2 linked regions of the Homo sapiens genome follow. The protein of the gene in region 1 purifies or fractionates together with the protein of each later gene. This does not show direct contact. Each region holds a gene or a part of one and is shown on either strand. Other genes may lie near its edges.

Region 1 (3,836 bases):
TTATTGCTGAGCAAGTGTTGCTTCTGTTTCTGAGTCTATCAAAAGGGTTCACATGAAGAAATACAGCTATCATTTATATGTGACTAGCAGAATATATTTAAGGAACATATTCTTTTTTATCAGAGGCAAGCCTTAAGATATAAATCAAAAGATTATAATGAAAAATATGGCATGAAATAATAAATTAAAAATGAGAATAGTTTGTTGATTCTAATGTATCTTCAGGAGTTGGAATGGCAGTTTAGGAGAGGAATGAGCTAATATAAATGTATATTTTAAAATAAATATGCTCAATATGCTTGCTTTATTTTTTTAACAGGATGAAAGAAGCAGGAGTAGACCATAGGCAGTGGAGGGGTCCCATATTATCCACCTGCAAGCAGTGCCCAGTGGTCTATCCCAGCCCTGTTTGTGGTTCAGATGGTCATACCTACTCTTTTCAGGTAAAGACACCTACAGTTGTTTAGTTTGAAATAAGGGATGCATACTTATTAGTAAATGATTAAAACCATTGCTTATCCAATGTGATAATTCAAATTATTCATTTAACTTATAAAATAAATTAATAATCTCACTGGTTTGGAATATGATTCAATGTGCATTTGTTTTTTCTATATCAGAATTTTTAAGGTTTGAAATACTAAAGCTATGAACCCTCAGATATCAAAGCCAACCTTTCCTTTGTTGCTACTATGAAAGAAGTCAGAAATGTTAGCATGCTGTACAATAGCTTTAGTGATCAATATTATTTTAACAACAATAAATGTGCTACAATCTGTCATTAGAATTATTTTTTAATCTCATATTTTATCTCCTATATTATCTCATTTAAGCCACCAAAAATCTCTTTACCAGATGAAAAAAACAGGATCAGAGAGGCAATTTGACAAGTTTCACATATTTAGTTGACATTGAAGCTAGGATTTGATATAATCTCTGATTCAATGCCTTTGCTCTCTCTTCTACATTGTTGTTCCTCCCAATTAAGTGTCCCATATTGTTAAAATATTTTGGGATTTTTACAAACTTTGCCTAAATAAGACATTGATAAATTTCCTTAGCTTATGTAACAGAAAGTAAGGAGTTCAGGTTCACTGTCTTTTATCTGAAACCCTAGGGACTGCATACATTTAAAAATTTAGATTTAAAAAATATATATTTTAGAAAGGTAGTGTAGCATATTATGCAGTGTCCCTAGAAGGAGCTTACCCTATAATTAAACTATTAAGCCAGGTGCAGTGGTTCACGCCTGTAACCCCAGCACTTGTGAGGCCAAGGTGGGCAGATTACCTGAGTCAGGAGTTTGAGACCAGCCTGGCCAACATGGTGAAACCCCGTCTCTACTAAAAATACAAAAATGCATCAGGCATGGTGTTGGGCATCTGTAATCCCAGCTACTCGGGAGGCTGAGGCAGAAGAATGACTTGAACCAGGGAGACGGAGGTTGCAGTGAGCTGAGATTGCGCCATTGTACTCCAGCCTGGGCAATAAGAGCAAAACTCTGTCTCAAAAAACAAAAAACAAAAACAAAAACATATTAATACATTTTTAAGCAACAATTTAAATATTCTTATTAAAGAGTATACATTAAATCTATAAATAACCTTTCTTCAGTTCATATCTGATTGTGCTTACTGCAGTTATTTCCAGAATTTTCCTACCTTTTATATGTTTTGGTTTTGTGGATACCTGCTTATGAATCATAATCTGTCTGAGCAAATATTTCCCCAAAACTTCCACTTGCCTTTTACAATTACAAATCTGGGAAAGTGCACTACAATGCTCTTAATTAATTCAGTCACTAAATACATAGTACACACTAGGTGCCAAGTACTGTGTATCCTTAGTGAAGCTGTCATATGTCTACCTGCTAAACTTTTATAGATGTATATAGAAGCGGAGTTATCGCTAGGAGAGGAGTGTGTCAGGGGTCCTTTCAACATGGTCTTGATCTTGGTGAATTTAACATGGTATAGGTAGGGCCTTGGCTTTGCAAGTTTAGTGAATTCCTGTTGCCAGTACAAGGGAGAGTGAATCTATCTCATATTATAAAATTCCACATGGAAATGATGTATAAATCATTTTGCTGATTTATTGACTTATAATGAAGGATGCAGATTGTAATATTCAAACTGATAGGAAGAACTACAGAGGAAGTAAATTTTAATCCTAATTTTATCTGGTGAGTGTAGATGATTGAATAAATTGAGTCAGTGGTAGAGAGATTGGAAAGTTTTACTGGCATCCACCTAAGTAGAAGTATGTCTTTCTCAACATTGGAAATATGTGCCAGAAGTACTGATATGTTTGTGCCTAGGGTGTCATCATCCCCAGAGAGTGCTAACAGAAGTCTACTGGCTTCTGCTGACATTTTTGGGACTCTTTTGAGGTTGCTCCTAGCAGGTGATCCTTCCTTTCCCAATTTAGTTTCATAGGACACCAAGTTACAATTATAAGTGGAATTCTACTTGATAAGACTTGATTGATGATGTTAGAGTTACTTAGCATGTAAGAAATAGCTCTCATATTCTCATTCAAGACTAAAAGCACGTATTATACGTAGATTAATTCAGGTATATCTTCAATTTCATGGGGTTTCCTCATTGTTCTCCTTGGGCGTGAGGCACACTGTGATACCTTGGCTTATAAATCATCTAATTTTATTAGTAGTATCAACAAAACCAATCTTATAGATAATCCATATTTGAATTATTATTTTAATATTTATTTACATAAATGTCACTTTTAACAAATGCTTTTTTACATAGAAAGACATTACAAAAAGCATGCTTCAAGTGAATATGGGTCTTTAATAACCCTAAATCATCATTTTTATTTCTGTTAATTCTAATTTAACTTAATGACTTTTCCACTTTGAACCATCCATCCTAATCTTAAACTTTTGCATTGACAGCAATGAGACTGAGCTATATAAAACAATGAAAAACTAAGTAGAACTCTTAGCCCAGTAAAGATTTAGGTGAAACTATCCTTACTAATCTTTTTTTAAGAGTTTATTTGATTTGAATCTCAAATTAAGGACTTCAATATGTTGGTGTTTTTTTGTTCCCCCCTCATAAGAAAGTATTGCCCTAGGCTATTTAGCTACTGATCAAAAACAAAGACCACAAAGGCCAGTACCTTCTTGTAAATGTCATTTTATTATGTTCCCAACATCTGCTTATGAGAGTTGAAAATAGAATATAGATAAGAGATCACAAGATCTTTCTTCTGGCTCTTGGATCACTAAATTTTGTCAATAAACTTGCAAATTATGACAGGTCAGATTTAAACACATTTGAACAATAATGATGAGCTCCAAATTCTAAGCTCAGTAGGGTCCATGAAGCTCCTTGCTTGAAGTTTTAAATCCTCCCCTGAGTAGTCCTGATATGTTAAAGATTAATCAGAAGCCAGATATGATGAGTCTTGGATGTGGGGCCCTACATTCAGTGTGGAAGTGCAGTCTTGCTGTGGAAGCCTTTCCTATTCGTCTGCTGAATTGTTGACCCATGCATTGATACAAATGGTTTTTTTTTAATACTACAAATAATATTCCTACAAGTTCTATTTTAGACCCACAATGTTTGTTCATTACTTTCAGCTTATTTTATAGAGAGGAGATTATAAATGATATTTTCATTGCACATCTTAACTGGAGGTGAGGTCAGGTGCAGGAGCTGGGGGATGTGGTGGGAAAGAGGAATATCAGAAGGTACACAAAGAAAGACTTTAGCCAAATGATATAACTAAGATATAATTTTAAAAGGTAAACCTCATTATGCAATGTGACCAATTTTGAATAATTATTTTATTTGAGTTCAAGCTTTGAAGTT
Region 2 (2,990 bases), on another chromosome or scaffold:
GTGGATGTAACTGGGAAATCAATCTCAAAGATTGATTACAGGTATGAGTTTTAAAATACACTTAGCTTTCCATTAAGTGTGTAATTAGTCAATTGTTCAATTAACCAACAAACAAGGTGTAAAAAGCCCTGTGTGGTTCCAAGAAGTAAAAACCAATACAATGCACAGCAGACCTGTGTAATGCACATGTATTTAAAAAATAAGTAACTATTGTTCTCAATTTCTTAAATAGGGACCAATTTATTTCTCGTTGCTGCTCATGAAATTGGCCACTCCCTGGGTCTCTTTCACTCAGCCAACACTGAAGCTTTGATGTACCCACTCTATCACTCACTCACAGACCTGACTCGGTTCCGCCTGTCTCAAGATGATATAAATGGCATTCAGTCCCTCTATGGTGAGTGACACTGGGAAAATCAGCCATTGTAGTTTTGCAATGATGGTCTTCAGAAGAGCTTTCAAATGCTACATAAAGTATTTATGATTTAGTTCAAAGCACCGTGAGAATGTTTGGAAAGCATACAAATGGGCATATATTGAAACGTATCACATTTCCCCTAATGTTCCCTTTAGGACCTCCCCCTGACTCCCCTGAGACCCCCCTGGTACCCACGGAACCTGTCCCTCCAGAACCTGGGACGCCAGCCAACTGTGATCCTGCTTTGTCCTTTGATGCTGTCAGCACTCTGAGGGGAGAAATCCTGATCTTTAAAGACAGGTCAGGCTGAAAAATTATATTTTCCTACCATTTTAATCTACAATGTTTAGAAAGGAAAACACGCAGAAACTTGATAGAGATTCTTAGACATTTAAAACAAAAACGTTTCTTCTGAGCTTGGAATCATTTAGATCTGGTGCTGCCTTTTCCCACATTTTCCTAAAATTGTCAGGTTCATTTTTGAAGGCACAGGCTGATCTGGTTCTTAGCTTCTAATTGCTGTTTCCAAATGTCTTAAGTCACAGTTACTTTTCAAAAGGCATGAGTAGATCTTTCGAATAATAATTTTATTTTTACTTCCTTTAAAAATGACATCAGGATCAACATTACATTTAATCAAGTAATTTACTTACTGATGGATCAATATGCACATGACAAACATTCAAAGAGCACAAATGAGAAGCAAATTAAAAATTTTAGTTCCCAGTTCTCCCTGTACTCATCCAGAGTCAAGACTTTTTGTGCATCCTTCCAGAATCTTTCTACACACATACAAGAATATATTTACACAGCACATACACGTATACAAACACGGCCTAGCTTTTGGAAGAGGGTATAGCACACGCACTGTTTTGCATACATTGCAGGTAATTAAAGCTTATGCTGGGCTAATTCATTTGCACGATAGAATAATTTTTCTTTCATAGAAGACATTACTCTGGAAACCTATGACGGGAGACTCACTACAGTCTTCTGAAGAAAAAGGAAAGAAATTTTCTAATGGCAATATACCTGATTTCTATCTGTCATCCAGCCTAGAAGATGAGAGAATGGGGGAAGCTGGGTGAGGCAAGACGGTGAGGAAAATATTCTAAAGGTGAAAGATTGTTTTTCAATTTACATTTCTTTTTACATATATTTTAGGCACTTTTGGCGCAAATCCCTCAGGAAGCTTGAACCTGAATTGCATTTGATCTCTTCATTTTGGCCATCTCTTCCTTCAGGCGTGGATGCCGCATATGAAGTTACTAGCAAGGACCTCGTTTTCATTTTTAAAGGTAATTACTATATCATCATTTGTTTAACTTGCCAAAGTAAACCCTCTCATAAGAAATTGAACAACACTTTAATTTTCCCTACTACAAGTTCTGGCTAATACAGTAGTCAACGGTAATGAAGAAATAACCAGGGCTGATATCATTGTATTTATATTTCATAGATGATAAAAATAAAGACAAGAAGATAAATTACCCAGAGTTGTAAATTCTCTCATTTGACCTTAGTTCATTCATTCAGTCTGCAAATTTTTGTGAAAAGCCCACTGTAAGCTGGTGACTAAATCTAAAATTTGGGCTACTACTTTACCATGAAAATCAAAGATGCTAAAGTGTATTTCTAAAGCGAAAGGGCTTAACTGTTATAATTCAATATGACTCTGAATTATTTATATTTAACAGGAAATCAATTCTGGGCTATCAGAGGAAATGAGGTACGAGCTGGATACCCAAGAGGCATCCACACCCTAGGTTTCCCTCCAACCGTGAGGAAAATCGATGCAGCCATTTCTGATAAGGAAAAGAACAAAACATATTTCTTTGTAGAGGACAAATACTGGAGGTGAGATGCAAGAGAAATGACTTTGTATGGAGCCTAATTAGGGAAATTAGTTTCTTTTACTAAGGAAATCCCCCACCCCAACCTTAGGCCTGCTTCTCTCTTAGTAGGAAGGATGGGACTTCAGACAACTGTGGGAAAGTTCTTACTTTAAAACAGCAGCACCTTAGGCTCTCCTGCTTTCAGTCCCAAGTGCAGTTGGCTGGTGCTTCCCTTGGTGCTGTCACCCCACCTGCCTGGAGCCCCCTCTTCTCTCCTCAACCTATTCAAATCTTGCCCATCCTTCAAGTCCTGGCTCAAGTCTCATCACCTCCATGCAGCTTTCCCTCGTGGACTTTAGACCCATTGGGAAAATGTTCTGAGAACCCAGACCGCAATTTAGCGTTCCCTTCCCATTGTCTTTTAGTTTGGCTCACTGTCTCACTGTGTGTTTGTCACTGTCTCATTGTGTGTTTGTTTTGTCTTCCTAACACTACTATATGATTTTCAAGGGCTACCTCTAACCTCACCCACTTGTCACCTCTACCTGATAATGATGGCTCATTTAAGAGATGATGATCAATAGCAGTCCAGTTTATGGATACAACCCAACACTCACAGACAGGTTGATTCCTGGGTCATTTGGCCAGACTTTGAGACATCGAGGCCGACCATCTGATATCCAGCCAATGGGCTAAAAACACACTTACTGTGCTTTGCTTCTTATCCTAATCCCTTT

What was found.
Region 2: the proteins of SPOCK3 (region 1) and MMP3 purify together in Homo sapiens (affinity purification with western blotting, with the first as the bait; one study listed by BioGRID). This does not show direct contact.

What each region holds. Positions count from the first base shown.
Region 1 is NC_000004.12:166,909,227-166,913,062, reverse strand, and holds part of SPOCK3 (testican-3 isoform 1 precursor), read left to right. Parts: intron 1-319; coding exon 320-443; intron 444-3,836. UniProt on the Homo sapiens protein: May participate in diverse steps of neurogenesis. Inhibits the processing of pro-matrix metalloproteinase 2 (MMP-2) by MT1-MMP and MT3-MMP. May interfere with tumor invasion.
Region 2 is NC_000011.10:102,837,836-102,840,825, reverse strand, and holds part of MMP3 (stromelysin-1 preproprotein), read left to right. Parts: intron 1-232; coding exon 233-397; intron 398-573; coding exon 574-718; intron 719-1,582; coding exon 1,583-1,716; intron 1,717-2,115; coding exon 2,116-2,275; intron 2,276-2,990. UniProt on the Homo sapiens protein: Metalloproteinase with a rather broad substrate specificity that can degrade fibronectin, laminin, gelatins of type I, III, IV, and V; collagens III, IV, X, and IX, and cartilage proteoglycans.